3 separate regions of the Homo sapiens genome follow, and regions 1 and 3 are each reported to be linked to region 2. Evidence: microRNA targets listed by miRTarBase, many of them from high-throughput screens and not tested one by one. Region 2 holds a microRNA gene; each other region holds the end of a gene's coding sequence.

Region 1 (10,118 bases), not on the chromosome of region 2:
ATATATGATATTACATATATGTAATAATTGATCTTTGTAATATATAATATATAATACAGTGACAATATATGCTATTAATAATATATAATAACAAAACATGTTATTATATAACATTATGATATGGTGTTATGTTATAATATTAGTCATAAAGATGCACCATATTGTTTTATGAACATTCTATCATTATTGTTAACAGCAGACTCCATTTATTGAGCACTTACTATGTCCCAGAAAACTATGCTACCTGGCACTCAAACTGTCGCTCTCGTGTGAAGTGAGTGTCAACCCTTCATTTTACAGAGATGGAAGCTCAGCTTCAGGCCACTTAAGGAACTTGCTCAGTGAGTGGTGAGGCCACAATTTAAGCCATCTCTCTCTCCAACACCCAACATTTAATTTCTCTTCTTTTATTCCTTAGTTTCAGTCATTCATTTGATTTATTTGAGTTTCCATCCAAATGTTACCTGTAAGAAAGACTTCTTAAAATACCACTCCTCGCCAGACACGGTGGCTCACGCCTGTAATCCCAGCACTTTGGGAGGCCGAGGCGGGTGTATCACGAGATCAAGAGATCGAGACCATGCTGGCCAACATGGTGAAACCCCGTCTCTACTAAAAACACAAGAATTAGCTGGGCGTGGTGGCGTGCACCTGTAGTCCCAGCTACTCGGGAGTCTGAGGCAGGAGAATTGCTTGAACCCAGGAGGTGGAGGTTGCAGAGAGCTGAGATTGCGCCACTGCGCTCCAGCCTGGTGACAGAGCAAGACTCCATCTCAAAGAAAAAATACCACTCCTCCACTCGCTCAAGTACTCTCAAATCCCTTACCCTGCTTTATTTTTTTCCTAGATACTTATCTCCACCTAGAATGATAAATTTATCCATTCATTTGTGCATTATCTGTCTCCCTGATTAGAAGTTATTCGTTCATGTAGCAAATACTTCTTGGGCACTTACTGTGTTCCAGGTGCTGTTGTAAGTCCTAGAAACATAGCAGTGAACAAATCAGACCAAAATCCCTGCCCTGTGGATCTTACATTCTAGTGAGCAGGGGCATGTGCGGTGCTTTAATACTTATGCCAAATATGCAATATGTCCTATGATCAGTGGCAAGGGGGAAGATCAAGGACAGAAAGAGGATAGGTAATGTGGAGGCTTGGGGTATGTAGAAAGTGCTCTATGAAGCTCATAGCTGTCTGGTCTGTGGTGTTTTGCTATCTCTCTGTGTGATCACCTGGTGGTGTAGGGTGGTAGTTGAGAGTGTGAGCTCTGAAGCCAGATTCCTAGGTCCAGGCTTCTCCACTTATGAGCTGTGTTACTCGAGCAGCAACCCCATTAACCTCTCTGAACTTAGCTTCCTTATTTGGAAAGTGGTGGTAGTAATAGCGCCTTCCTGGTAGGGTTATGATTTAATAGATGAAAACGCTTAGAATGTGGCTGGCACAAAGTACACACTCAATAAGTGGTAAAAATTTTCACTGCCTTAGATACCTGGAACAAGTTCCATGTAGAGTTGGAACACTCAGTACTTACTGAATGGCTACATGCATTAATTTAATAGGTATGGATAGAATTTACCACTATTGTCATGGCCCTGGTCTCCTTCTCATTCTGCCCTAACTGGGCTTTTTGGCCAATGGCATCCAAGATTTTCGAGTGCCACTGTTAGGAAAGGGTCCTAGATGGTGTTAGCCCTTCCCCACCTTTTATCACAGTTATCACGATAGTAGCAACCACAACTCATCAGCACTAGCCGTGTGCTATCCTGAGCCCTTAACGTGCATATTGTGTTTAATTCTTAGCACCCTTATGAGTAGGAGTTGCTAATATCTCCATCTTACAGATGAGGAAACTGAGGCTCACATAGCTAGTAGAAAGTGGTAGAGCTAGGCCTCTTCAAAACTCATGTGCTTACCTGCGGAATCACTCTCCCTTTCTGGACTCCAATTTCCTTGTCTGCAAAATGAGGGACCCCACACACACATACATCGTTTTCCATATTTCTGAGTTCTCTTAAACCCTCGAAGTTGACTCCCTGTTGTGCTGCATCTGAAGGCTATACCCCAAGAGTTTGCAGACCAATCTTGGGTGGATGCAGAAAGTTCCTAGTTACTCTGTTTTCAGTGTCCAGGCTCTTAGTATTGAGTGACCTCCAAGTCAGGTTGGCCACTCCTTTAACCACTGGGCATCCACATGGGACCACAAATTCCAGTTGATTCCTTTATCTTGTTCGGAATCTGATTTGCTCTTCTCTGCTTATATCCACCAGCAGCTCTCCTTCACCTTCTGGGTGAATTCTAAGCTTTCTGGTCAGGCCTTTAAGGCTGGTGGTCTGTGATGGATCATGCTTCCACCTCGTCTCTCATCATCACCTGCAACTGACGCCACAGCATGGCAGCTGCAGAGGGTCTCCAGCATACATTAGTCTCAATGCACACCCGGAGGGCCCTTTCTCCTTCTCTTATGTCGTCTGCTCCAGGGGATCATCCTGACTCCCTACTCTGTCCCCCTTCCAGGTCCCTTCACCCCCTATGCTTCCCTCCAGCAAGATATTAGTGTCACAGCCATGCACCTGCAGCCTGTCTTCCTTCAGGCCTTGCCCCCATATTCAGCTTGTTGCTCCAATAATAAAGCATAGCGACAGAGCTCACCTTTGAGCTCCGGAGACAGTAGCTAGTATCTGGCAAAACAAGCAAGTGTTGAAGCAGGAGGAGAGCAGTGGGAAGGGATGTGGCTTGAGCTGTTGGAAATGAGAGGGGTTGCAACAGCAGAGAAAATATTTATTAATATAACACCTAGCATTTTAGCACTGCTGTGGACAAAGCACTGCCTCTGACACACTGTATCCTTACAACAATCCCATGAGGTTGGATCTCCAGTTTACGAGTGAAGAAACGAAAGCTCAGAAACCTGAATTGACTTCCCAGGTTATACAGCTAGTAAGTGGCAAAGCAAGAATTTGAACCCAGGAAGGCTGGATCCACATCTAACACCATCAATTACCATGCAGCGCTGCCTCTCTAGAAAGAAGGTATGGCAGGCAAGGAGCAGGGCATGAACATCAGCAGGTGGAGAAGGACATGGTGTGAAATGCTGAGGCTATAGTAAGTGCTCATTAAATATGGTTGGGCTGAACCCAGTGTTCTGCCTACTTACTAGGTCTTGGGCAGAAATGGAGGGGTTAATATGGCTAGATGATGGAGAGGATGAATGTCCAGCCAAGGAATCTGGTCTTTATCCTATAGGCAGGGTAGGATAGCACCTACTGAAGCTCGGCTCAGAACAGTCAGATGCTTGAGGCCTCAGATCAAGTGGGAGGTTTTGTTATACTGGGTGACAATAGTTGATCAATGTTCTCTCCTCTTCTATCCTAGTTCTCTCAGCTCATTAAGATCTTCCATTCCCTGGGTCCTGAGAAGTTCCCGCTTGTGGAGCAAACATTTTTCCCCAACCATAAGCCAATGGTGAGTGCCCTTTTTTACTCTGTTTCTTTGCATGATGCGGAATGAATACAGATGACTTGTCCTCGGTCTCTTTGGATGGAGGAGGTGGACTCTAGGGGTTGTACACTGACCACGCAGACTCTAAGGCGGAGTCACAGTGTCCTGTGGGAGTGCCTGGATTTCCTAAGGGAAGTCGTCTCTCCAGGTGAAATTCAGGCAATAGGGCAAATAACAAAGGTGAACCACATTCCTTGGAACTTGGAGATTTTCAGCAAATCAGGGGACACGTTCTGGGGGCATGTTAGAACCAGAGGCTGATTATAAAGGTAAAAGATGTTTTCAAGGTGGGATGTTGTTTTACTTGAGCCTTTTGTGGAACCTGATTTCAACTCATATTTTAATAAAAAGCAGTAATATTAATATTTGATTTGCATTGGTTGTTGAAGGGCAGTTTCCTTACATGTCCTCTTCACTTTCCAATTTCTGAATGCACCTGAGATCTCCTCTGGGAAGCAGGGCTTAGCTCAGGATATGTGGTACAGCCTCCCATTTGGAGGATACCTGGGTGGAAGAGGTGAATGTCTTTCTGAATGAGGTGAAGGGTTCTCCACCTGAAGCCAGAAAGTGTTGGGGGGAGGAGCTCTAAGCAGCAGGAAAGAGCCTGCAACATGCCTGCTTGCATAGTTGATGGTCTTCGTAAACTGGTCAAAGGAATTCAAGGCTGTGACCCTGCGCTTGGCCTTGCAGGGAATGCGTCTTTGGGAACAGAATAATGAATAGAGTATACCATAGTCCCAGGTGGGGACTTACTGTGGCTGTTTGTAGAGTCCAAGCTCAGGCTTCTGGGCTAGACAGTCCTGTTTGGAGATACTGATGGGTAGGACTGCAGATTTCAGGAGTAATCACTCTAACCAAGCAGAATTTCTATTGATGATCTTTCCCCTGTATCTGATCGGGCAAGAGTCACAGAATCCAGAACATGCTGGTTGAGATAAGAAGGGCACATGTGAAACCCAGCATATCCCCAAACCCTGGATTTTTCTTACTGTATGCATCCTTACAGTGGGGAAAATTCAGAGTTCATTATCAAACTAGCCTGAATTTGAATGCCAGTTCTGTCTACACACTAGGTCTCAGGAAAATGACTTTATCTCTGTGAGCCCCAACTTCTTCAGGTAAAAACCGTGGATGATTGTGGAGCAACCTCATCGAGTAGTCAGGATTTCATGAGATCCTGTATATAAAGTGCTGTACCTGGCATATAGTAGGAGTAGCTTTAAAACAAGGGTGAAAACCTAGAACGTTGTCAATGGTGGGATGAAAGTCAGGCGAGGGGTCTGCAGCCAGCCCAGCCCATTGACAGTGAGAGGCCCTGCTGTATACTCTGAAAGGAGGTTGTTATAAGCTCTGGGAAAAGGTCACCAGCTGTCGTGAGACCTCATGAGTTCCTGGTGTTCCCAACTAGGCCAAGCCATACTTGGAATTTCAAGCAGGCAGTTGACATCAAGGACTGCTGTTTGCAGGCCGCCCCTCCCCACCTCCACCAGGTTGGGATTCTTAGGAAGAAAACAAGGAGGGCTGAGTAAGGACTCCAGTCTGGGGGTACTTGTACCACCAATAGGTGATTAGGTACAGATATATTAATACATCCAGATTCAGCAGAACTAGGGAGGACTCTAGCAATAGAATCAGGGAGCAAAGTCAAGGCAGGGCACCTCTCCTAAGATTCCTTCTGCAAGGGAAAAGGACTGGAGCAGGGTGGGGCCAGGCCATAGCGGTGCATGGAGGGAGGGATGTGTCCAGGCCTGGAGCTGGGGATAGACTTTCAAGGCCTGCTGGTGTATACATAACTCCCCGTGGCGTCAGAACACAACAAGGCAAGAGACAGCAGATGTGTGATAGAAATAAAACCACTTTACTGTTTAGAATAAAGGACACACTATAAAAAGTGAACATTATGCAACATTACAAGACAATATACATTCACGGAATATAAAATTCATAAATAACATGGAGGAAAACTGTAAACAGTGCTACGAAATTTAGCAACAAATACATTCCTTCTAGACAGGGTTCGAGATCTCTTGTTGGTTTCTCTCCATCACTTCTGGGTTTCAGGACAGCAGACTGGCTAAAGGGAAAGGCGGATGCTGGGAGAATCTAAGAAGCCTCTACCCCCAAAGCAAAAACTATTCTCCAAGTTCTCCCCTTCCTCTCGCCTCCAAAGAGCCAATTTGGAAGTTGTTGTCACATCCACCTCCCCTACTTTCCATTTTGTTTTGCTTTTGCCATCAGATTTTTATAATGTTTGTCTCTCATAAAAATACTCTAGTGACATGTTAACCTTAGGTAGCCAGAAGCCAAACACTTGGGTGCCATCTTGGGGTAGTCCAGATTGTCAATTGTCACATGCAAGACAGAGGTCTGGGGCATGGAAGGGTAGTGTCTCCTGGGGGCCACAGTTTGCCCTAGACAGGGCTATTCCAAAAAGTCATTTGTTTCTTTAATTGTTCAAGAACCATGTTGCCACCATGAGGCAGGTCTGGAACGAGGGGAGGGTAAAAGACAGGAGTCTCCCAGTATTACCTACCCTGGACAGAGCAGAGCACTGGCCCGAGAGCTGAGAGCCTGAGCATGGAGCTTCCTTGATTGGGAGGCAGAAGAGATGCCCAAAGGAGGAAGCGAGAACTTGGAATTGTATCTCCCATGGCCCTGGATTCTTAGGAAAATCATGGCTTCCCAACTGGATGGGCAGCAGGACTTGGGGTGAAGTAAATGGTAGACTACCCAGGGCCGAGTGACACAGAACAAGAACATGAATGTAGTTTAAACTTTTTTCCTACTCCAGGAGCCATTGGGATTCCAATAGGGAGGAGGCTGGAGGAGTCTCAGTTACTAGTTCCTTCTATTTCCCCCAATTCACCAGTCTAGCTGCTTGCCTAGAAGTATTTTCCTCTCCATTCCACTGCAGAATTTGATTCAGGAAAATGGCGGCATGTGGGTTTCATTTTTCTCTTAAACACAATGTACACATATTACAGCCTACACATGACACAAGATTTAGCAAAATAAAATGTTCATGATATGATTGAAATACAGAAGTGTCTCAGCTACATAAATGATTTTAAATTATACAGTAAGTGAACGGGTGAAATAAACAAAGCTATAGCTTATAGAAAGCTCAAAACCGCCCTCTGACATCGCTTTGCGAAAGACCCTTCTTTGCCCAGGGCCTCCTCACCAAGGCCTAACAGATGGGGATGTGGTTCTGCTAATTTATCGACTCCGCAGGGAAACTTCAGGTGCCTCACACTCAGCCTTCACCCAAGTTCCTCCTTGTGTGAGAGAGGCTGACCACACCAGGGAGTGCGAATGGCCAGATGCCTCACAGAGAAGACACTGATGTCCACTTGTGGGAGGGAACTTGTGTAGGTTGGTCAGGGGCCCCACCATGCGAGACCTTGAGGTTAAAATAAGGACAATCCCAAAACATCAAGTCTGGGCTCATCCCTTCAAAACCAGTGACATGCTGGCATCAGCTTCTGCTCACACTGCCTCACAAAGAAGGCCAAGCCTCCCATTCTCCCCCTGCCAAATGGCATGACCACAATGGGAAAGGTACACGGTAATGAAATTGATCCCAAGGAAACCCGATGCCGGTACTCTCTTCCCACTCTGCGGTTCTGCCAAGCACCTTGCCTGGGCACTTGTGTGTGTGCAAGACTCTACAGTGTGTTGTCTGCTGCTTTTTTTTTTTTTCTTCTTCTGTTTCAATTGGCAGCTCTGTTTCCTAAAGTGGAATGAACTGAAGATACAAATACTAATAGAAGATAAATACCCATAAGCTGAAAAAAGAGACAGAGAGCAATCATGTTCAATGTCACCATCCTGCCAACCCCCACTCTGTAAAATATACATTATCACCTACTCTCAGCATCTCACTTTTGACACTAAAACTTAAAATAATTTTATTTAATAGGAGAATTTATATTATAGTTTTATTTCAAAAAAAAAAAAAAAAACACAACAGAAACCCTACAACTGGTTGCAAACTCAGGCTTTCCCCAGTGACCAACAATTTTAATTCCAAGAGGTGAGGATCTCAGGAGGTGGCATTCACCCACCAGGGAGCTAGGGAAAGGGAACCAAGCTGTCTCCACACCCAGGAGAGGTGTCCCTCCAGCCAAGGCAGGCAGGACACTCTGCAGCTCTCCCTCCTGTGCCCAGGCCCTTGACTACACTCTCATCTGCCATCTGAGCTAAGCCAGGAAGGCAGTTAAAGAAAGGCCCCCAAACATGAAGCAGGGACAAGGAGACGGACAGGGGTCAGATGACCCATGATAGGGAAGAGAGGGTGCTGACGGTGTTCAGAATTTCAAATTTTAATTAAAATGAAAAAAAAATGTCAACTTGGAATGTCATGATTTTCTTCAAACAAGCAACGACAACAAAATAGAAGAGATTAAACTATTGGCATATTTAACAGCATTGAACAGAATTCTGTGTCCTGTAAAAAAATTAGCTTATGTCCCCATGTGGGTATATGCAAATGTGTATACAAACATATCCCCCTAGGTGAGCTAAACACTATTCTGGAAATAGTATCCTCTACCCAAATCTACTTGGCTATATCTGTGGATAGTGTATGGTGTGTGTATTTATCCAATTTACATAAAAGAAAGCTCCTGGCCAAATCTACCAAAGCGTTTTCCAGGAGGAAGTCTGGTGGGAGGCAGGGAGAGGAAAGACATTCATCTCAGTCTTTCACCTGAGCTTTTGTACAAGGCAGGCAAATTGCCTCCTGACCTCAGGCAGATGTTTAAGTCTTCACCAACTAAGAAAGCTCTGTTATTCTGGCCTGGGTGCTTGCTCCAGACTCAGGAACATCTGGTCAACACAAGCATCACTGGGCTGGGGAATTGTGTGTGTGCTGCATCATCTCCGACTCTCTTGTAGTTCCTTCCTTCCCTCCCTCACTCTTACATGCAGACACAGACAGACACAGTCTGGTTGGGACATGCAGTGGCAGCTCCTGGTGTATAACATCTTTCACACACCTTGAGTCTATCTGCTTGCTGCCTTTGACTGATCCTGAAATGGTTGGCCTTTCAGCAAGTTCCTTGTCTGTGTCCTTTATGTATTGGAGGAGAAGGGCAAAGGGAAGAGGGTCTGGGAGATGGTGAGGTGGGGAAGAAGCAAGAGGGGTGGGAATTACAATCCTCAAATGGAGTAGTTTTTCATTTTTGTTTTCCTAAAAAAATAGAGATTATATTATCACGAAGAAGAGGAATACAGGTTCCTCATTCTTTCTGGCATGGCACCAGAAATTCCCAGGTGGAAATGAATGATGTCAAAACCAAAAAGAAGGGGCAGGGTGGGGCCAGGAGGATAGTTCCCAATAAACCCCATATGACAGCATAGACCTTTCTTTAAATGTTCCAAGTGCTAAATTTGCAAGAAAACAGGCACTAATTTCATTGTCATCATCTGGGAAGAGTTAGTGTCCAAGGGAAGCTCAGCGGGAAGGGAGGGAAGTGAGGTGGGGCAGGGTCTGGCGCTCAGGGGTCTGTGGCATTGATGATGCTTTTATCCGGGGGGGCCCATCCTCGGTACCAGCTGCAGTAGCCGCCCTTCTGCCGGATGCAGGCGTAGTGTTTGGACTGGTAGCCAGGGTAACCGAAATTGGAGAGCATGTCGGTCCAGAGACACTCGTTCTTGGAAGTCACAAAGCAAGGCAGGTAGTAGCAGGACTTGATCTGCAATTAGATAACAGGCAGCAGTTGATGGACTCTGCCATGGTATGCCCAGGCCTGAGGCTACCGAGCCTGGATTCAGACCCTGGGGCCACTGCATGGGAAGCCTAGCCACATCAGTCCCTCAGTGATCATAATATAAATAGCACTAGCTTGAGCATCTGCTGTCTAACAGACATTCTGATAAGTGCTTTGATATTATTCTCTTTAATTCTTATCACAGTTTTAGGAGGCTCTGAGAGGTTAAGTAACTTGCTGCAGGTCACACAGCCAGTAAGTAGCAGAATTAGACTACTGAGAGGACTTTTTCGTCTCAGGTGGGAGATCTCAGTTGTTTTAGGGAATCGAGGAATTAGAAAGGTTAGAGCATAAACTTTGGAGTCTAGCTGCCCTAGGTTGGAAACCAGATTCAGTGAACTGTGGGACCTAGGGCTAGTTACTTAAGTTCTCTGAGCTCTCATCTGCAGAATGGAGATCATAGTAATTAAAACCACACAGGACTGTTTTGAAGATGAAGTGAGAGAATGGCCCAACTTCCTCCCACAGCAGGCAGGCTGCACCTTGGCCCTATACTTGGGTCAGGGGGATGGGCCTGGTAAAGAGAGACCTTCTGTAGCATCTGGTCTCTGCAGTCCTGGGCCCATTTGCCTACCTGGGGTGGGGTTAGCGATGAGTCAGCTACCAGGGTGAGCCCACTTGAAACCACTTGGGAGAACCTGCCAGTGTCAGGATCCTATACCTCCAGCCTTGAACTGCCAGGTGGGGCCAGGGACTCAAGAGCCCTCATGCCCCAGCAGCTTCCAAGTGGTCATCATGGAGGCAGCCGATTACAGCAGAAAGGCATTCTTCCTTCCCTGCCTTCCTCACTGCCCCACCTGGGGCAACAATCCTTACTATATCTGCTCAGACCTGCCCCTCTGCCCT
Region 2 (10,469 bases):
TGGGATTACAGACGTGAGCCACCGCCCCCGGCCTCTCTAACATTTCTTTTGGTTCTTTTTATAGTTTCCATTTCTCTGCTTACATTGCCTACCTGTTCTTGCATGCTGTCTACTTTATCCAGAGCATCTGGTTCTGATGCTTGCTTTGTCTCTTCAAACTATGTTTTTTTGCCTTTTAGTATACTTTGTAATTTTTTCTTGATAGCCAGGCATGATGTTTTGGGCTAAAGAAACTACTGTAAATAGGACTTTAGTAATGTGGTGGCAAGGTGTGGAGGGAAAGGAAGCATTCTACAGTCCGATAATTAGGTCTCAGTCTTTTAGTGAGCCTATGTCTCTGGACTGTGAACTTCACAGGTGCTTCTCAGTCTCCCCCTCTCCTTAGGTGGGACAACATAGCTAGACTAGGCTGGAGTTGGGTATTTCCCTTCCCCCAGATCAGTTAGGCTGTTATAAAACCCCAGCAGGTTAGGCTCCAGTTAAGTAATTTCTCCTGAGGGAAGACCTTGTTCTTAAGAACAGAATGCTCTAGGGCATTTCAAGATGGTTCCTTTTCCTCTCCCCTTGTTGGAAGCATGAGAGGATCGTTTGCAAAATTCACTGTGAGAACCTAGTAGAGCCCCTGGAGGTAAAACTACAAAAGTGTGGGAGCCTCCCAATAAAGTTTTTATCTCACAGACTTGTCCACACCAAGCCTCCAGCAATTTGTCAATTACAGTTCAGGTTTTCCCACTCCAGCACTGATTCCCATGAAGATTTCTGCTCCAGTAATTAAGTTGTGATTATCTGCATTCACCTGTGTTTCCAATTTGGGGTTTACTCTATGACCTCCCATCTCTTATGGATCTAAGAAGAGCTGTTGATTTTTCAGTTTACTCAGCTTTTTACTTGCTAAGATGGAGTGGTGACTTTTTTTTTTTTTTTTTTTTTTTTAGCTGGAGGTCTTGCTCTGTTGCCCAGGCTGTAGTGCAGTGGTATAATCATGGCCCACTGCAGCCTTAATTGCCTAGGCTCAAGTGATCCTTCCACCTCAGCCTCCCAAGTAACTGGGACTACAGGCATGTGCCACCACGACTGGCTAATTTTTGTATAGTTGGTAAAGATGGGGTTTTGCCACGTTGCTCCAGCTGGTCTTGAACTCCTGGGCTCAAGTAATCCTTTTGCCTCAGCCTCCCAAAGTGCTGGGATTGCAGGCATGAGCTACGGTGCCCAGCCAGGAGTAGTGACTTCTGAGCTCCTTACATGCCAGAATGGAAACTAATGTTCCTAATCCACTTTTTTTCCCTGAAAATGTAGCACTTTAAAAGTCATTTCTGCCTTTACTTTCAATGCTAAAAAAAAAAAAGTAAACTACCTTTGAAAAAGGTAGGAGGCATTTTCTATAAGTTAGGCCTCTGCACATAAAGTGAAAACGAGGAGTTTGAGTCCTAAGTCTGTGGTTTGTGTGTGACTTCAAGCAAGTGACTTGACTTATTGAGACTCAATTGCTTTTTTTTTTTTTTAATTTAAGAGATGAGGTCTTGCTGTGTTGCCCAGGCTGGAGTGCAGTGGCGTGATTAGCGCTTACTGCCACCTTGAATTCCTGGTCTCAAGCAATCTTTCCAACTCAACCTCCTGAGTAGCTGGGACTCCACAGGTGCATGACACCTGGTTGGTTTTTTTGTTTTGTTTTGTTTTGTTTTTAATTTTCTGTAGAGATTGGGACTCCCTAGGTTTCCCAGTCTGGTCTCGAACTCCTGGACTCAAATGATCTTCCTGCCTCAGCCTCCCAAAGTGCTGGGATTACAGGCATGAGCCACTGCACTCAGCCTCAATTGCTTTTACAAGGTTTTATTTATTATATTGGAAAGGGAATATGGAAACCCTGTGAGACCTACACAATGTGGTGCAATTATCAGGTATTCTTACCTTTTTTCAAGCCAGTAACTATTTTTTACATCTAGTTATCTGTGACCTTTTCAATTGTTCAATATTTGTACAGTTGTCCCTCAGCATCCATGGGAGTTTGGTTTGAGGACTCCCCACAGATACCAAAATCCACAGAAGTTCAAGATCCTTGTATAAAATTGCATAGTAGGCCGGGCACGGTGGCTTACACCTGTAATCCCAGCACTTTGGGATGCCGAGGCAGGCAGATCCCGAGGTCAGGAGTTCAAGACCAGCCTGACCAATATGGTGAAACCCCCGTCTCTACTAAAAATAAAAAAATTAGCCAGTCATGGTGGCACGTGCCTGTAGTCCCAGCTACTCGGGAGGCTGAGGCAGAAGAATCACTTGAACCCAGGAGGCGGAGGTTTCAGTGAGCCGAGATCACACCACTACACTCCAGCCCGAGTGACAGAGTGAGACTCCGTCAAAAAAAAAAGGCATAGGATTTGCGTATAACCTACTCACCTCCTTTCATGTACTTTAAATCATCTATAAATTACATATAATACCTAATACAATGTAAGTGCTATGTAAATAGTTGTTATACTAGTTTTGTTTTTGTTTTTGTTTTGTTTTGAGACATAGTCTCCCTCTGTAGCCCAGGCTGGAGTGCAGTGGCACGATCTCACTGCAACCTCCGCCTCCCGGGTTCAAGCAATTCTCATGCTTCAGCTTCACGAGTAGCTGAAATTATAGGCGCGGGCCCCCACACCCATCTAATTTTTCTATTTTTAGTAGAGATGGGTTTTGCCCCATTGGCCAGGCTACTTTCAACCTCTTGACCTCAAGTGACCCACCCACCTCGGCCTCCCAAAGTGCTGGGATTACAGGTGTGAGCCACCGCACCTGGCCAATTTTTTAATGTGTATTATTTTTATTATTGTACGGTTGTTTTTAATTTTTCTGAATAACTCCAATCAGTGGTTGGTTTAATTCACAAATGCAGAACTCACAAATACAGAGGGCCAACTCTTATTTATTTTGTGGAGACGGAATCTTGCTCTGTCACCCAAGCTGGAGTGCACTGGCGTGGTCTTGGCACACTGCAACCTCCACCTCCCAAATTCAAGCAATTCTCCTGCCTCAGCCTCCTGAGTAGCTGGGACTATAGGCATGCACCACCACACCCGGCTGATTTTTGTATTTTTAATAGAGATGAGGTTTCACCATATTTGTTAGGCTGGTCTCGAACTCCTGACCTCCGGTGATCCACCCACCTTGGCCTCCCAAACTGCTGAGATTACAGGCATGAGCCACTGCACCCAGCCCAGGGGGCCAACTCTTATTTATTATTCTGATAGTATATGCCAGCTGATTTACCAGCTAATTCTTTTTTTCTGTTTATTTGTTTTGTTTTGTTGTTTTAGTTTGTTTTGTTGTTTTTTGTTTTTGAGACATAGTTTCACTCTGTCACCCAGGTTGGAGTGTGCTCTTGGCTCACTGCAACCTCCACCTCCCGGGTTCAAGCGATTCTCCTGCCTCAGCCTCCTGAGTAATTGGGATTACAGGCACGTGCCACCACACTCAGCTAATTTTTGTATTTTTAGTAGGGTCAGGGTTTCGCCATGTTGGCCAGGCTGGTCTCAAACTCCTGACCTTAGGTGATCCAGGCAGATAACCTCAGCCTCTCAAAGTGCTGAGATTACAGGTGTCAGTCACCCTGTCTGGCCCCAGCTGATTTTATATCAGTGTTTTACTATTGCCTTTTTATGGCTCTCTCAGAAATCTCTTTTTAAATTTTTTAGCTGTGGGGCAATGCAAAAGTGATTTTTAGCTCATCAATCTATAATATTCTTTGTCCTTTGTGCAACTGTAGTAGGCAGCTTGGGAACTTATGGCCCCCACCTTAACCTGACAACATCTCTTTATCTCCATTTAAAATATTCCAGTATCTTGGTACTATATTACATGATCCTGCCCACTGACTATAGCTAATTGGACTAAAGGTAGACATCCAAACCAAATTTGCCAATCAAATTCTTTCAAGATTTTGGAATATGGACCTAAAGAGAGTTGAGGCAGTCTTCTCAATGACTGGAACTGAAATATGGAACTCAGGATCTGTGAAGCAGCCATATTATTCCCATTATATTCCCCCAAGAGCAGAGAAAGTTTGTTTTGTTTACTGGAGAAAATTAAGAGATAAGGTCCTGAGAGGCAAACAGAGAGTCTTAACTTTTATTTCCTGCCATCATTCCATTTTATGAGCCATTCATATATTCCTATTTTTTCAACTCCCCTTTTATTCCTTGAGTGACTTGATTTCTGATCTTTGCAACAGAGGATCCTAACCAACACTAGAGCACAGAAGATCTACTCTTTGACTTTGACATTTTGTTCTTGTTGTTTTTTGGGTGTTTTTGAGACAGCACCTCACTCTGTTGCTCAGACTGGACGACAGTGGTGCACTCGTGGCTCACTGCAGCCTCAACCTACCAGGCTCAAGAGATCCTAATACCTCAGCCTCCTGAGAAGCTGGGACTATAGGTTTGTGCCACCACACCCAGCTAATTTTTGATTTTTTGTAGAGATGGGGTTTCACCATGTTGCCCAGGCTGGTCTTGAATTCCTGGGCTCAAGCAATCCTCCCACCTTGGCCTCCCAAAGTGCTGGGATTACAGGCCTGAGCCACCATGCCCAGCCTACACTTTGGCTTTAATGTTAACAGAATTAACATAGATTTCTAAAAGTGTTTCCTCTCTGCAGTGCCCTTAAGTGAATTAAATGTTTAATAACCATTTAGGGGTTTTCTTACCTTTGTCTTCGCCTTAAGTGTAACAGTGCTTTCTTTTTATGCAAAATATAGTTTATCTTTATTCATTTAATCACAAAAAATGCATAATTCTTATAACAAATTTCTATAATATAAAAATATATTGAGCCGGGTGTGGTGATATGAGACTGTAGTTCCAGCTACTCAGGAGGCTGGGGTGGGAGGATCACTTGACCCCAGGAGTTCGAGTCCAGCCTGGGCAACATAGCAAGACCTCATCTCTAATTTTTAAAATGAAACTTTCATTCCTTCCTCTCTGGTTCCTCTTCACCTTCCATCATGATTGGAGGCTTCCTGAGCCCTTCATCAGAAGCAGATGCTGGTCTTTGCCTCTTATACAGCCTGCAGAACCAGGAAGACTACATTTCCCAGCACTCCCTTGCATAAAACTCCTCTCCCAGTCTCTCAGGCTCCTTCTCTCTTCCTCTACATGGCTGGAAATGAAGGTTCCAAGATGGCAGATGCACAGGATGGGAGAAGCCCTGATCCCTGAATTTGCTGCTTAGAGAAGAGCTGCTCTGGTGAACTCTCAGGCCAGGAACATCAGCATGAATAAGAAACAAATCTTTATTGCATTAAGCCATTGAGAGTTCAGGGTTTATTTGTTAGCCCAGCAGAGTTTATTCTATCCCCATACCATGCTGTGGCCTTCCTTACTCTTCACTGGCATGGAGAATCACATCCACCTGGGGAAGAACACCATGTGAGATGCACATAAAGGTGTATGAGTGGCAAAGAAGGAACATTCCTACTGTATTGTATATAAGACACTACAGGAAGGGTCCCTTCACACTTGGAAACGCACTCACCGAGAAATCAACCAATAAAGCCCACACCTAGTAGAAATAGAAAATATATTATAAAAATTAAAATATAGAAAGTTAGAAATAAATCCTTCTCCATCTGTTTTCACCCTCTAGAGGTAATACTGAGGTTTATAGTTTGCTATGTGTTCTTACATAATGCTGATGTTTATACAACCATGTGCATTTCACATATGTGGTTGTGGTTTTCTTTTACAAAAATAGCATATTATATATTGCTATGCAACTTTTTTTCCACTTAAAAAACATAACATAAACATCATCAGGGAGAATTGGGGAGATATTGGTCAAAGCATATAAAATTTCATTTAGGGGGAATACATTCAACAGATCTTTTGTACAACATGGTAACTATAGTTAATAATGTACTGTAGCCAGACACGGTGGCTCATGCCTGTAATCCCAGCACTTTGGGAGGCCGAGATGGGTGGATCACCTGAGGCCAGGAGTTCAAGACTACCCTGCCCAACATGGCGAAACCCTGTCACTACTAAAAATACAAAAATTAGCCGGACATGGTGGCAGGCACCTGCAATCCCAGCTACTTGGGAGGCTGAGGCATGAGAACTGTTTGAACCCGGGAGGCAGAGGTTGCAGTGAGCCGAGATCACACCACTGCACTCCAGCCTGGGTGACAGAGTGAAACTCCATCTCAATAAATAAATAAATAAATAAATAAAAATAATGTGCTATATATAGTCAGTCCTCTGGATCCTCAGGTTTTCCATCCATGATTCTACCAATCTCATATCAAAAATATTTGGGAAAAAAAACTTAAAAATAATACAAACTTAAAAAGATAGTATAACAACCATTTATATAACACATATTATATAAGGTATTATAGGTAATCTAGAGATGATTTAAAGTATAGACATCCCCCTCATATAAGTGGGGGATTGGTTCCAGGACCCCCTGTAGATACAGAAATGCGAGGATGCTAAAGTCCCATATAAAATGGTATAGCGTTTGCATATAACCTATGTACATCCTCCCTATCCTTTAAATCATCTCCAGATTACTTATAATACCTGATAGAATGCAAATGCTACATAGTTATTATACTTCATTGCTTTTTATTTGTATTATTTTTTATTGTTGTATTGTTTTCCCCCCCCCCACACACAATATTTTCAATTTCTGGTTGGTTGAATCCACAGATGCAGAACCCACAGATAACAAAAGCCAACTATATATTGGAAGATGTGCATAGGTTATACACAAATACTACACTTTTTTTAATAAGGTACTTGAACATTCCCCAAATTTTGGAATTCACAGGGTGTCCCGGAACCAATTTTTCTTGGATATGGGGGGATAATTGTACTTAGGAATTGTTAAGAGGGTAGTTTTTAAATGTTCTCGCCGCATACAAAAAAAAATGTGAGGTAATGAATATGTTAATTAGCTTGATTTAGCCATCTCACAATGCACACATATATCTAAACATCATGCTGTGCACAATGAGTATATACAACTTTTATTGTCAATTAAAAATAATTTTTTTTCTTGAGACAGGGTCTTGCTCTGTCACCCAGACTAGAGTGAAATCATGACTCACTGCAGCCTCTGCTTCTCAGGCTCAAGCAATCCTCCCATCTCAGCCTCTGGAGTAGCTGGGACTACTACACCCGGCTTTTAAAATTTTTCTTTTAGAGACAGGGTCTTACTATGTTGCCCAGGCTGGTCTTCAACTCCTGAGATCAAGAAATCCTCTTGCCTCAGCCTCCCAAAGTGCTGGGGTTACAGGTGTGAGCTACGGCGCCCAGGCTAATTGATTTCAAAACCAAAAATACCCTCAAAACATCATGCTAGTCATTCTCTATCTTCATGGGCCATATTTGTCCTTTCTCTCTGGCCAGTGGACCACTTTACTCAGGCTCCCATGCCAAATGTTTCCGAGTGGGTTCAGCCAATCAAAGGTCACTGCAGAGGTCTCTGCAGCAAAATATCAGAGAATAAAAGGAAAAAAGTCAGGGTAAGGCTGGGCGTGGTGGCTCACACCTGTAATCCCAGTACTTTGGGAGGCTGAGGTGGATGGATCACGAGGTCAGGAGTTCAAGACCAGCCTAGCTAACATGGTGAAACCCCATCTCTACTAAAAATACAAAAATTAGCTGGGTGTGGTGGTGCGCGTCTATAATCCCAGCTCCTCGAGAGGCTGAGGCAGGAGAATTGCTTGAACCTGGGAGGCAGAGGTTGCAGTGAGCCGAGATAGTGCCATTGCATTCTAGCTCTGAGTGGCAGAGCAAGACTCCATCTCGGAAAAAAATAAAAAATAAATTAATTAATTTTAAAAAGTCAGGGTATTCCTTCCTTGTTTCCTACCTGCATCAGCTCTGTCTTTTGCAGTGGCTGTCTCCATCCTTAGCTATAACTCCCTGGGTGGCCCTGCCTCCATGGTTCCAAATTTCACTGGGCTCCTACTGTGCTATGCCCTCTCCTTTGTACCTGAGGCCTTAGGAATGGGCATCACTTTCCACCATTGCTAGTCTCTAGGCACTTCACCATCCCTTCTTTGTTTGCTTGGCACCTAACCTCTGTAAGTAAACTCTTCCTTAAAAATGTCTTCATTTGCAGCCTGGGCAACATAGCAAGATCCCACCTCTACAAAAAGAAATTCAAAAAATTAGCCAGGCATGGTGGTGGTGCACACCTGTAGTCCCAGCTACTTGGGAGGCTGGGTCAATAGGATTGCTTAAACTCAGGAGTTGAAGGTTGCAGTGAGCTATGATCACACCACTGCACTTAGGCCTGGGTGACAGAGCAAGACTCTCTCTCTCTCTCTCTCTCTCTCTCTCTCTATACATATACATATATGTATATGTTCATGTATATATATATGTTCATTCAAACCATTTGGGGGTGAGTTCTGTTCCCTTCCAGCACCCTCTCATATACAGACATTTTTCCAAGGTGATACATGTGGCTGTCACTCATTTTAGGGACAGGTCATGATTTGCTAATTCATTCCTTTGTTGATAGACATTTATCATATTTTCAACTGAATTATATATTAGAAACAATGGTGCAGTGAACATCCTTGTGTGTGAGTATGTGTGTGTGTATATGCTTATGAGTATTTCTGTAGGGAAGACTCCTCAAATTGAAATTGCTTGAACAAAAGGCATACATATTTTGAATTTGATAAATATTTTCTTTCCCTACTGAGTAGAGATTAAACAATTTCCTCTCCCTGGAACACACTTACAACTAATGAACAACAAACAAGCTATAGCCATGATAAATAAAAAAGTAAGGCTTTAGTCAAATAAGCATGTTTAGACCATTAATCCAAAAGAAATCATGGATATTTTTAAACCTAAAAATAAAGTAAGTCTTTATAAAGGAGTTTCTGAATCCTACAGCTATTCAGACAACATAATCCTTCAATCAGCTTTATTTCAAGGAAAGAGAACAATTTCTAACTGTTTGAACTAATCTGACCAGCAAAAGTTCCAGTAGTTCCCAAGTGTATTAGATTAAGCACATGATTAAAAATACAATTCAAAGAACACTCTGATGCTAAATTTTAGTGTATGTTCACATAATATATAACTTCTATTCAGGACGCAGACACCAAGATGTTTGCTATCACATTCTAGGTTTAGGTTATAAGGTTTAACATCTCAAAAGCACGAATATGTTCCAAAGAGGCAAGACACATCTTCAATGAGCATTGTATGTAATAATAAGTTTTAAATGATCTAACTTTCCACCAGTAGGGGAATGGTTAAACTTTGGTATATCCTACTATGTACCAAGTTTTAAAATGTGCTTTACTGACTATTAGAGAGGTAGAGTAACTTTCATATGTTGGGGAAGGGGGTTGCCCTTTCAGATCCTTATATGTAAATGATCTATTCATATATTTTGCACATATTTCTATTGATTTGCCTTTTTTCTTATCCACATATAGAAGGTTTACTGTGGTATGGACATAAGGGTTTTGTTTGTTTGGTTGTTTGGTTGTTGGTTGTTTTTTTTTTTTTTTTGAGACAGAGTTTCGCTTTTGTCACCCAGGCTGGAGTGCAATGGCACTATCTCGGCTCACTGCAACCTCTGCCTCCCAGTTTCAAGTGATTCTCCTGCCTCAGCCTCCCAAGTAGCTGGGATTATAGGCGCCCAGAACCACGCCCGGCTAATTTTTTGTATTTTTAGTAAAGACGGGGTTTTGACATGTTGGGCAGGCTGGTCTCGAACTCCTGCCCTCAGGTGATCTGCCCACTTCGGCCTCCCAAACTGCTGGGATTACAGGCGTGAGCCACTGCACCCGGCCAAGGTTTTTGTTTGTTTGTTTGTTTGTTGTGAGACCGGGTCTCACTGTGTCACCCAGGCTGGAGTACAGTGGCACGATCATGGCTCACTGCAGCCTCTGCCTCCCAGGCTCAAGTGATCCTCCCATCTCAGCCTCCTGAGTAACTGGGACTGTGGGTGTGGTGGTTAATTTTTGTATCATTTGTAAAGAGGGGGTTTCGTCATGTTGCCCAGGCTGGTCTCGAACTCCTAGGCTCAAGTGATCCGCCTGCCTTGGCTTCCAAAAGTGCTGGGATGACAGGCATGAGCTGGACACAAGTTTTTTGTTATGTATATAACATGTCTACTTCTATTCAGTTGCTTGTCTTAATTTTTTTCATGGTGTTGTATAGTTCCGACATCATGTAATCAAATTATCAATCTATCAATATGGCTTTTTGCCTTTCTGCCTCTTCTAATAATCATAGACTCTTCTAGGGTTTTAATTTCACTTCTATTAATATTTGCCAATGGTAAGAAGTAGAAATTTAGCATCTTCCTCCAAATGGAAGGCCAATTATCCTAATGTCTTTCCTAGAAGTCCCAGTGAATGTCTTCTCATCTCCCGTTGGCTCTGGCCATGCCCATTTATAAACTAGTCACTCCCAACAGGGTAACTGGATATACTGACGTCAAGGCAGCCCGAG
Region 3 (10,469 bases), not on the chromosome of region 2:
CTGTGCCCCAGCTCCTGTGTATATTTTTAAAGGGCTAATCAGGGAAGTAGGCTCTACATCCTGAAATGAGGGAGAAAGGATTCCAAAGCCAAGTGGAAGTCAGTTCAAAAACAGAGTCTTCCTGGAGACCATGTGAGGGTGGAAGCAGGCAGAGTGGAGGGGACCTATTCAGTCCTGAGAGCCTCCAATTTCCCTGTGAAGAGGAAGAGGAGGGGAAGCATCAGGCTGGATAAGTGGCCAGGGACCAGAGCCGTCTCTCTCTTCTAACCCTCAGCCCAGCACCTGCCAGATGGGAGGTGCTGAGAACACGTAAGTTGAAGGATAAAGCAAAGAATTAAAAGGATGGAGAAAAGCCCACTGGACCGAAAACCAGGAAGTCACTGGTGACTTGAGAAAAGTTTTGGTGAAGTGAAGGAATAGAAGCACAGATACCAAGGGATTTGGGGTGGTTTGGGGAAGGCAGGTGCTATGGTTTGAATGTGTCCCCTCCAAAAACCTGGCATTGCCAATGTGATAGTATTAAGATGTGGGGCCTTTAAGAGGTGATTAGAACTTGAGGGTTCCTCCCACGGGATGGATTAAGGTCCTTATAAAAGAGGCTTCATGTGGCGGGGCATGGTGGCTCACACCTGTAATCCCAGCACTTTGCAAGGACAAGGCGGGTGGATCACGAGGTCAGGAGTTCAAGACCAGCTTGGCCAAGATGCTGAAACCTCGTCTCTACTAAAAATACAAAAAATTAGCAGGCGTGGTGGCACGCACCTGTAATACCAGCTATTCGGGAGGCTGAGGCAGAGAATTTCATAAAGCTGGGAGGTGGAGTTTGCAGTGAGCCGATTTCACACCACTGCACTCCAGCCTGGGCACAGAGTGAGACTCTGTCTCAAAAAAAAAAAAAAAAAAAAAAAAAAGAGGCTTCATGTAGCATTTGGCCACTTGCCCTTCTACCTTCCTCCATATGAGGACATAGCATTTCTCCACTCCAAAGAATGCAGCAATAAGGTGACATCTTGAAAGCAGAGAGCAGCCCTCACCAGATACTGAACCTGCTGGCACCTTGACCTTGGGCTTCACAGCTGCCAGAACTGTGAGAAGTAAATTTCTGTTTTGATCCGTTATCCAGGCCCAGGTATTATGTCATAGCAGCGGGAAGGGACTAAGACAGTGGGCCTGACCATGAGAAGATGTTGCCGAGGAAGTGACCTTGGAGTTGAGACCTGCAGAGGGATTTACCATGAAGCCAGTGAAGCCCTGGTGATTTTGTATTCAGGGAATATGGCAAACAAGGAAAACGAGAACAAAAAGAGAGGACAGAATGGGAGCAGAATGGAGGTGGGAGACAGGGCCATGCCCAGACTTGTCAAAACAGAGGTCGCTGGAGGGTATTGGGGGAGAGGAGAAGGGTGTAGCAAGAGTGGAAACCACATCTCTCCCAGCAAGGTGGGCCCTTGACAGACAGCCACAGAGTAACAATCACAGCAGGAACATGCCTGGAGTTAGAGTGCAAAGCTACCTGTTTAAAATATCAAAGAGGCCAGGTGCAGTGGCTCACACCTGTAATCCTAGCACTTTGGGAGGCCGAAGGGGGCAGATCATGAGGTCAGGAGATCAAGACCATCCTGGCTAACACGGTGAAATCCCGTCTGTGCTAAAAATACAAAAAATTAGCCGGGCATGGTGGCACGCGCCTGTGGTCCCAGCTACTCAGGAGGCTGAGGCAGGAGAATCGCCTGAACCTGGGAGGCAGAGGTTGTGGTGAGCTGAGATCACGCCCCTGGACTGCAGCCTGGGTGACAGAGCGAGACCCTGTCTCAAAACTAATAATAATAATAATAATCATCATCATCATCATCAAGGATACTGATGTATTCCAGGATAAAATGGCACATTTTAAAAAGTTTGATTGGCTTTATTACTAATGAATTAAATAAATAAATAAGGGATAAACTAAAAGAATAAAACAAAATATAAGAAGTTGTTGGAGGCCTGGGTGTGGTAGCTCATGCCTATGATCCCAGCATTTTGGGAGCCTGAGGCAGGAGGATCGCTCAAGCCCAGGAGTTCAAGACCAGCCTGGGCATCATAGTGAGAGCTCGTCTCTCTAAAAAAAATAATAATAAACAAAATTAGCCAGGCGTGGTGGTACATGCCTATAGTCCCAGCTACTCAGAGGCTGAAGTGGGAAGTCTGCTTGAGCCTGGGAGGTCAAGGCTACAGTGAGCCATGATCACACCACTGCATTCCAGCCTGGGTGACAGAGTGATACCTTGACTCAAAAAAAAGTTGTTAGAGATGGAATTTATTGTAGTCCTTTTTTTTTTTGAGATGGAGTCTCACTCGGTCACCCAGGCTGGAGTGCAGTGGCATGATCCCAGCTCACCACAACCTCTACCTTCCGGGTTCAAGCAATTCTCCTGTCTCAGCCTCTCGAGCAGCTAGGATTACAGACGCCCACCACCACACTTGGATCATTTTTGTATTTTTAGTAGAGATGGGGTTTCACCACGTTGGCTAGGCTGGACTCAAACTCCTGACCTCAAGTGATTTGCCCACCTCAGTCCCCCAAAGTGCTGAGATTACAGGTGTGAGCCACCGTGCCCGGCCTTTTTTTTTTTTTTTCTTTTAAGATGAGTTCAGCCCTGGCAGGAACATCGTCAGTCCTCCCTCAGGTCTGCAGACACCTTGGGTCTGTGGTCCCTCCTGCCACAGCTCCCAAGTTTCTCTGTCCCAGGATCTGGCTGCAGGGGTCTGACCGGGCCCTGTTCCCTCTTCCGTGGCCTCGTCTCTGTTGGGGCCACCTGCTCTGGTATCTGGGACTTGCCTCCTCTTTCTCTCTCAGTCTTGTTGGACCTTTTCTAGTTGTCATCAGCTTGAGACATGATTCACATACCATCAAATTCACCCTTTTAAATGTACAGCTTAGTGGTTTTTAGTATAGTCACAAGGTTATGCAACCGTCACTACTATTGAATTCCAGAACATGTTTACCACGCAAAAAAGGACCCAAAGGTTAAAGACCCATTAGCAGCCACTACTTCTCATTTCCCCCTGGCACTCACTAATCCACGTCCTGTCTCTAGGGCTTTGTCTGTGTGAGTATTTCATCTAAATGGAATCACACAATATGTGGCCTCTGTATCTGGCGTCTTTCACTTAGCACGGTGTTTTCAAGGTTCATCTATGCGGTGTAGCACATATCACCATTTCATTCCTTTTTATGTTTAAATAATATTCCATTGTATGGAGAGACCCCATTTTATCTGTTGTTGATGGGCATTTGGGTTGTTTTCACTTTTTGGCTATTATGAAGAATGCTGTAATAAACATTTGTATGTAAGTTTTGCTTTGTTTTTTTGGTATCTTTGAGACAGGGTCTTGCTGTGTTATTCAGGCTGGCCTCGAACTCCTGGGTTCAAGATACCCTCTGGCCTCAGCCTCCTGAGTAGCTGGGACTATAGGCGAGCACCACTGTGCTTGGCTTATGTACAAGATGTTGTGTGACCGTGTGTTCAGTTCTCTGGGCGTGTACCTGGGAGTAGAATTGCTGAGCTGTATGGTAACTCTACTTAGTTCTGAGTGGCTGCCAAACTGTCTTCCACAGCGGCTCCATTTTATATCCCCACCAGCAACGCATGAGGGTTGCAATTTTTCCCACCCTCGCTGACACTTGTCACTGTCTCTTTGGATTCTATCATCAGATTTGTAATGGAAAATTCCCCATCCACATGTGACTGCCATGTCCTCCTTCCTCCTCTGTGGACATTTTTTCTATTCCTGCAGTCACCGTTCCCTTCTCTCCCACTTTCTAACCATCAAGCCCCATATCCATCCTCACCCTTGCATAGAGCCTTCCTCATAAAAAGCCCCCATAGCTTCACAGCAAGGCCTTCACTTCAGCTGTTGCCTCCTCCAGGTAGCCCTCATGACCTGTATGTGGACGTACCTATCACTGCTTATATTTGTCCCTGCCCAAATCTCATGTGGAATTGTAATCCCCAGTGTTGGAGGTGCGGCCTGGTGGAGGTGTTTGGGTCATGGGGATGGATCCTGCATGGATTGGTGCTGTTCTCGAGATAGTGAGTTCTTTCCAGATCTAGTTGTTTAAAAGTATGTGGCACTGGCTGGGCGCGGTGGCTCACGCCTGTAATCGCAGCACTTTGGGAGGCTGAGGTGGGCGGATCACGAGGTCAGGAGATCGAGACCATCCTGGCTAACACGGTGAAACCCCGTCTCTACTAAAAATGCAAAAACATTAGCCGGGCGTGGTGGCGGGCGCCTGTAGTCCCAGCTACTCGGGAGGCTGAGGCAGGAGAATGGCGTGAACCCGGGAGGCAGAGCTTGCAGTGAGCCGAGATGGCGCCACTGCACTCCAGCCTGGGCGACAGAGCGAGACTTCCTCTCAAAAAAAAAAAAAAAAAAAAAAGTATGTGGCACCTCCCCACACTCCTCTCTCTTTTGCTCCTGCTCTAGGCATGTGGTGTGCCTGCACCCTTTTGCCAAAAGTAAAAGCTCCTGAAGGCCTCCCCAGAAGCCCAGCAGATGCTGGTGTCATGCTTGTACAGCCTGCAGAACTGTGAGCCAATTAAACCTCTTTTCTTTATCAATTACCCAGGCTCAGGTTGTTTTTTGTTTTGTTTTGTTTTTGAGACAGAGTCTTACTCTGTTGCCCAGGCTGGAGTGCAGTGGTGCGATCTCATCTCACTGCAACCTCTCCCTCCCTGGTTCAAGCGATTCTCCTGACTCAGCCTCTTGAGTAGCTGGGACTACAGACACACACCACCATGCCTGGCTAATTTTTGTATTTTTGGTAGAGATGGGGTTTCACCAAGTTGGCCAGGCTGGTCTCAAACTCCTGGCTTCAAGTGATCCGCCTGCCTTGGCCTCAGGTATTTCTTTTTTTTTTTTTTTTTTTGAGATAGACTCTCGCTCTGTCACCAAGGCTGGAGTGCAGTGGCGCCATCTTGGCTCACTGCATGCTCTGCCTCCCAGGTTCACGCCATTCTCCTGCCTCAGCCTCCCAAGTAGCTGGGATTACAGGCGCCCACCACCACGCCCGGCTAATTTTTGTATTTTTAGTAGAGACGGGGTTTCACCATGTTAGCCAGGATGGTCTCTACCTCCTGACCTTGTGACCCGCCCGCCTTGGCCTCCCAAAGTGCTGGGATTACAGGCGTGAGCCACCGCTCCCGGCCAACCTCAGGTATTTCTTTATAGCAATGCAAAATGACCTAATACACTGTGCCTTTCACAAGCTCCTCTTTGAATCTTTAAAAGCAGCAAGAATCAGGATTCTTGCCAATTTGAGTTTAGGGGAAGTAAAAACAGCAGGGTTCAAGTATATATTTTATCATCAGATATCCTCCGGATGTCCTCCAGAGGTCTTAATCCCACCCTCCTCTTAATCACCTTCATAAATTGCATCATGAATGTACTTTATCAAAGTTGAAATAGAAACTTAGTTGCCCTCTGTTAATCTGGGTAGTAGCCTTCTTGACCAGACTGGAAGCTCCTTGAGGGTAAGTGTATTTGTCTGTTCTCATGCTGCTGATAAAGACACACCCAAGACTAGGTAACTTATAAAGAAAAAGAGGTTTAACAGACTCACAGTTCCACGTGGCTGGGGAGGCCTCACAATCACAGTGGAAGGTGAAAGGCACATCTCCCACGGCCACAGCAGCAGACAAAACAGAATGAGAGCCAAGTGAAAGGGGAAACCCCTTATAAAACCATCAGATCTCGTGAGACTTATTCACTACCATGAGAACAGTATGGGGAAAACTGCCGCCGTGATTCAATTATCTCCCACAAAACCCTCCCACAACACGTGGAAATTACAGGAGCTACAATTCAATATGAGATTTGGCCGGGGACACAGCCAAATCTTATCAGTAGGGATTCTGTCTTGCTGTCTTTGTGCCAAGCACAGTAGATGCTCAATTAATGTATTGAAATAGCTTTTGTTGAAAAAAGTTTTTAGCGTTTCACCAAAATAAAAAAAAAATTCTCAAAAAGTAAAATGCATCATAACCTTTATATAGCGTGTGTGTAATGTTTATGACTTTATGTATATGTGGTAACACTAGAGCATGGCTATTAGAACCCAAAATTTCTTATGGCTTCTCTCAGAACCCCAGGGGTCCAGTGAGCACAATACTGAGACAGCCTCAGGCAGTCTGCTAAACTGGGGTGAGCCTTGAGTCACGGTGCCCCGGCCAATCAGACCAGTGCTTCCCCCATCCCAGCACTCACAGTCCTGGCTCATCATTTCATCATCTCAAAAGAAAAGAGCATGACCACTTTCAGACCTTGTTAGCCTGTAAATGCCTGTATCTGTGCTACAGATGAGCAGCATTTCAAGTCGTCTGGAGTAAAGTCTGTGCTGCTGGCAATAGCTGTGTTATCCTGACTTTTCTTCCCCAAGCCCTGTTCTCTGTAACAGAGACGTGTTGTGAAATGCTGTCACTTGCTTCTCCCTTTCCCTTGGGAGCACCCGGCCAATGGAAGCCTTGCAGGTGCGGGCAGTCAGGGATCAAAAGGAAGCTTTGCAGCTGCCTTCTCCCCAAACTTCCAATAACCAGCTACTCAAATACACGCTCCTGAACCCAGGTGAGGCAGGAAAGGACATTACACATCCCACAGGTTCGGATTCCACTAAGCCTTTTAGCTTCTGGGTAGGCAGCATTAACTGGAGCGGCAGCTCTCTACCTGTGTGGCTGGGCAGCACCAGCATAACCTGCCAGCGTACCAGAAACGCAAATCCCTGAGCCCCATCCTTCCTGCGAGGGTAGGGCCCAGCAATCTGCACTTGGCCAAGTGTTCTAGGTGACCGAGAGGCACACTCAAGTGTGAGAACTGCTGAACTGGAGTTAGTGAGTTCAGCAGTCCTTAACAGGGTGGGAAGGTGCTCCCCGTCTCCAAAACCAGAAAACACAGCAGAGGAGACCTCCCTTCAGATTCACCCAAGTGAGGGCTCCTCTGGCAACTGGCCAAGGGCTTCTATGGAAACTGCACAGATGGTGCAGGTAAACAGTATTGTTCCCAACAGGCTCACGTGGGTCATGGGCACCCCACTTCTCTAGCACAGAGATTCATGGAGCTTCCTTTTTTTCTCTGATGTGTATGAAATCCTGAGTCCTGAGTTGCAGCTTCCCTTAGCAAACCTCATGAATCCTTGCGATCCTCACAAGGCCACCTGGAGCATAATTATAATTCCAACAAACTAGAACATCCCCGGAGGTGCTGCCTACAGTGTGTCAGCTTTGGGCTCAGAACCATGAATGGAGACAACGGTGCAGGGGCTGAGGAGGGGCAGGAAGAGCCAGGAAGACAGAGCAGGAGGCAAGGATGGAGTGCTCAGGGAGTCAAAGACGGCGTCCGCACTTGCAAAACGCTGGCTTTCACATCTGGAGAATTTAGGCCTCTGGGCCGAGGAGAAAGAACTATAGTTTCACCTCTTAGGCGTCTCCTTACAGGGCTAGGGAGATCTAGAATATCAGCCGAATGCCCAGGGCAAGTAAGTGCCTGGCACCAATTCTATAACTCGGGGCCAGCCAAGTTTTAACAAAGTAGGCAGAAGGTGGGACGAAATAGAGTGTGGAGGGAAGGAGGGAGAAGAGTCAGGTGAAATATGGAAAAAAGAGGGATGGCCAGGTGCGATGGCTTTCACCTGTAATAAAACACTTTAGGAGGCTGAGGCAGGTGCAGTGGCTCATGCCTGTAATCCCAGCACTTTGGGAGACTGAGGCGGGTGCAGTGGCTCACGCCTATAATCCCATCACTTTGGGAGACCGAGGCGGGCAGATCACCTGAGGTCAGGAGTTTAAGACCAGCCTGGCCAACACGGTGAAACCCCATCTCTACTAAAAATAAAAAAATTAGCCTGGGCTGGTGGCGTGCGCCTATAATCCCAGCTACTTGGGAGCCTGAGGCAGGAGAATCGCTTGAAACCGGGAGGCAGAGGTTGCAGTGAACTGAGATTTCGCCACTGCACTCCAGCCTGGGCAACAGAGTGAGACTCCGTCTTAAAAGAAAAAAGAAAGGGATGGGCAGATTTGCCCCCTTTGCCCTGCATCCAGCCATTTCACACTGTCAGCCACTTCTCACCATCTGCTTGCAAGACTGGCAGGGTCAGAGCATTCGTGACCATCTTAGCATCCGTGGAGCCTGTGGCTAATTCAAATCAAACAGAGTCAGACTGCTGAGAAGAAAATTATAGAAACAAAGTATTTATTATTTTCCATTAAAAAAAAAAAAGGAAATGGTGCCCAAGAGAGGAATGTTCCTAAGGAAACCCAGTGTTTCTTGCCGTGTCTTCTCTAAATGACAAACGCTCTTTGGCAAAAGAAAACAATTAATGCAACTAGAACTGCCTTCTGAGAGCAAAGTTTAATCCTGACCCAGAATTATAATAATTTCTGAAAGTTCTATTAATTTCAGCACACTGTGTAGGAATTACTCAGGCTTTTCCCATCCTATAGCTCCTAAAAAACCAAAGTGGCTAACCATATCTGGCATAACAGAGGAAGTAAGGTGCATTTCCTGATCTTCCACCATCACAGAAAAGCACACTTAATTTGCATCTCAAGTCGTCTGGAGTAAAGTCTATGTTGCTGGCAACAGTTGTGTTATCCTGACTTCTCTTCCCCAGGTCCTGTTGTCTGTAACAGAGATGTGTTGTGAAATGCTGTCACTTGCTTCTCCCTTTCTTTCCTTTGGGAGCACCCGGCCAATGGAAGCCTCGCAGATGCAGGCAGTCAGCGACGTTGTGGGCGATGTAGTAGAGGTTCAGCATGGCCGCGGGGCTGAGAATGTCCACTTCTGGTTTCTTCTGTTTCTTCCCATGAGACTTGCCCTGGCCTTTTCCTTTTTTCCCTTTAGCTGGCTTTCAAAGACAAATATAAATATGGGAGGAGGGAAGTTAGTTTTTTGGTTTTTGTTTTTTTTGAGACAGGGTTTCACTCCCAACACCCAGGCTGGAGTGTAGTGACATGCTCTTGGCTCACTACAACCTCCACCTCCCGTGCTCAAGTGATCCTCCTGCCTCGGCCTCCCAAGTAGCTGGGATTACAAGGTGTGCCCCATCACTCCCGGCTAATTTTTGTACTTTTAGTAGAGACAGGGTTTCACCATGTTGGGTAGGCTGCTCACAAACTCCTGACCTCAAGTGATCTGCCCACCTCAGACTCCCAAAGTGCTGGGATTACAGGTGTGAGCCATCTTGCCAGGCCGAGTTAGTTTTTATAAACTTGGTATCATTTTCAGTATTTCTGTATTGAACAAGGAAAAAAAATTCCTAAAAGGAAATAAGTCAAAATAGCAGCCACAACAAACAGTTTGCATCGTCCTGTCTTCTCTAAATGACAAACCCCCTTTGGCAAACGAAAACAATTAATGCAACTAGAACTGCCTTTTGAGAGCAAAGTTTAATTCTGACCCAGAATTATAATAATTTCTGAAAGTCACACGCAATCTAATTTGACAAATGTTTATTAAGCACCCTGATTAAAAGAGACCCAACGTAATGCAAGCTGTGGCCCTTGTTTGCATTCTTATTTGAACAAGCTGCAAAAAGATGTCTTTGAGTTAATCAGGGAAATCTGATCATGTCAAGGAATTATTAGTAATTCTATTAGGTCTGACAATGGCAGCAAATCACAGAAGAAGAAGTCCACACGTTTCTGAAGTGCACACTGAAATCTGTAGGGATGAAATGAAAGAAGGCCTGAGGTTTGCTTTAAAACACTCAGCTCCCCCGCTGCCCCCGACCCAGAAAAAACAGATAAAGCAAATGTGGCAAAATCCTAATTATTTCTGAATCTGAGAAATGGCTATATGAGGATTTAGTTTATGATTTTATTTTCATTTATGTTTGGAAATTTTCATAATACACATTAAATTTAAAACAAGTTTGATAATCAGGATGCAAATATGTATGTTGGCACTTGTTTTACAAGTAATCTCTACCTCATTAAGCAGTCATGAGGTTTAAGTGAGATACAAATATAAGATACTTAGCATAGGCTGGGCGCGGTGGCTCACGCCTGTAATCCCAGCACTTGGGAAGGCCAAGGCGGGTGGATCACCTGAGGTCAGGAAGTTCGAGACCAGCCTGGCCAATAAGGTGAAACCCCGTCTCTACTAAAAATACAAAAACTAGCTGGGCATGGTGGCAAGCGCCTGTAATCCCAGCTGCTCAGGAGGCTGAGGTAGAAGAATCGCCTGAACCCAGGAGCCAGAGGTTGCAGTGAGCCGAGATCACGCCACTGCATTCCAGCCTGGGGGACAGAGCGAGACTCTGCCTCCCCCCGCCTCCCCGCAAAAAAAAAAAGACACTTAGCACCATGTCTGATGTGAGACAAATACTCAATAAATGATGACTGTCATCACCTTCCTTTTTTTTGGAGACAGGGTCTTGCTGTGTCACCCAGGCTGGAGTGCAGTGGCACAAACTCAGCTTACTGTAACCCTGA

The links. The annotated mature microRNA hsa-miR-613 reads AGGAAUGUUCCUUCUUUGCC and lies in region 2 at 5,433-5,452, opposite strand. An mRNA with a match to its seed (bases 2 to 7 or 8) in the 3' UTR can be bound and repressed. Matches are read on the target gene's strand: a 7mer-m8 pairs with bases 2 to 8, a 7mer-A1 pairs with bases 2 to 7 and ends in A, and an 8mer does both.
Region 1: miRTarBase lists TIMP3 as a target of hsa-miR-613. Seed matches in the 3' UTR shown: 8mer at 7,853-7,860 and 7mer-A1 at 7,238-7,244.
Region 3: miRTarBase lists SMKR1 as a target of hsa-miR-613. Seed matches in the 3' UTR shown: 7mer-m8 at 8,273-8,279.

What each region holds. Positions count from the first base shown.
Region 1 is chr22:32,858,259-32,868,376 of GRCh38, reverse strand. TIMP3 (TIMP metallopeptidase inhibitor 3) reads right to left here. Exons shown (of 5, transcript NM_000362.5): 5 at 5,336-9,197. The coding sequence ends at 9,000. SYN3 (synapsin III) reads left to right here. Exons shown (of 14, transcript NM_003490.4): 6 at 3,373-3,462. Among named protein-coding and RNA genes, the nearest start is that of TIMP3, 62 kb to the right of the region's middle.
Region 2 is chr12:12,759,692-12,770,160 of GRCh38, reverse strand. MIR613 (microRNA 613) reads right to left here and starts at 5,512; the gene lies at 5,418-5,512. It also overlaps a transcript of APOLD1 not described here.
Region 3 is chr7:129,510,659-129,521,127 of GRCh38, reverse strand. It overlaps SMKR1 (small lysine rich protein 1), which reads right to left. Exons shown (of 2, transcript NM_001195243.2): 2 at 8,210-8,881. The coding sequence ends at 8,687. Among named protein-coding and RNA genes, the nearest start is that of SMKR1, 13 kb to the right of the region's middle.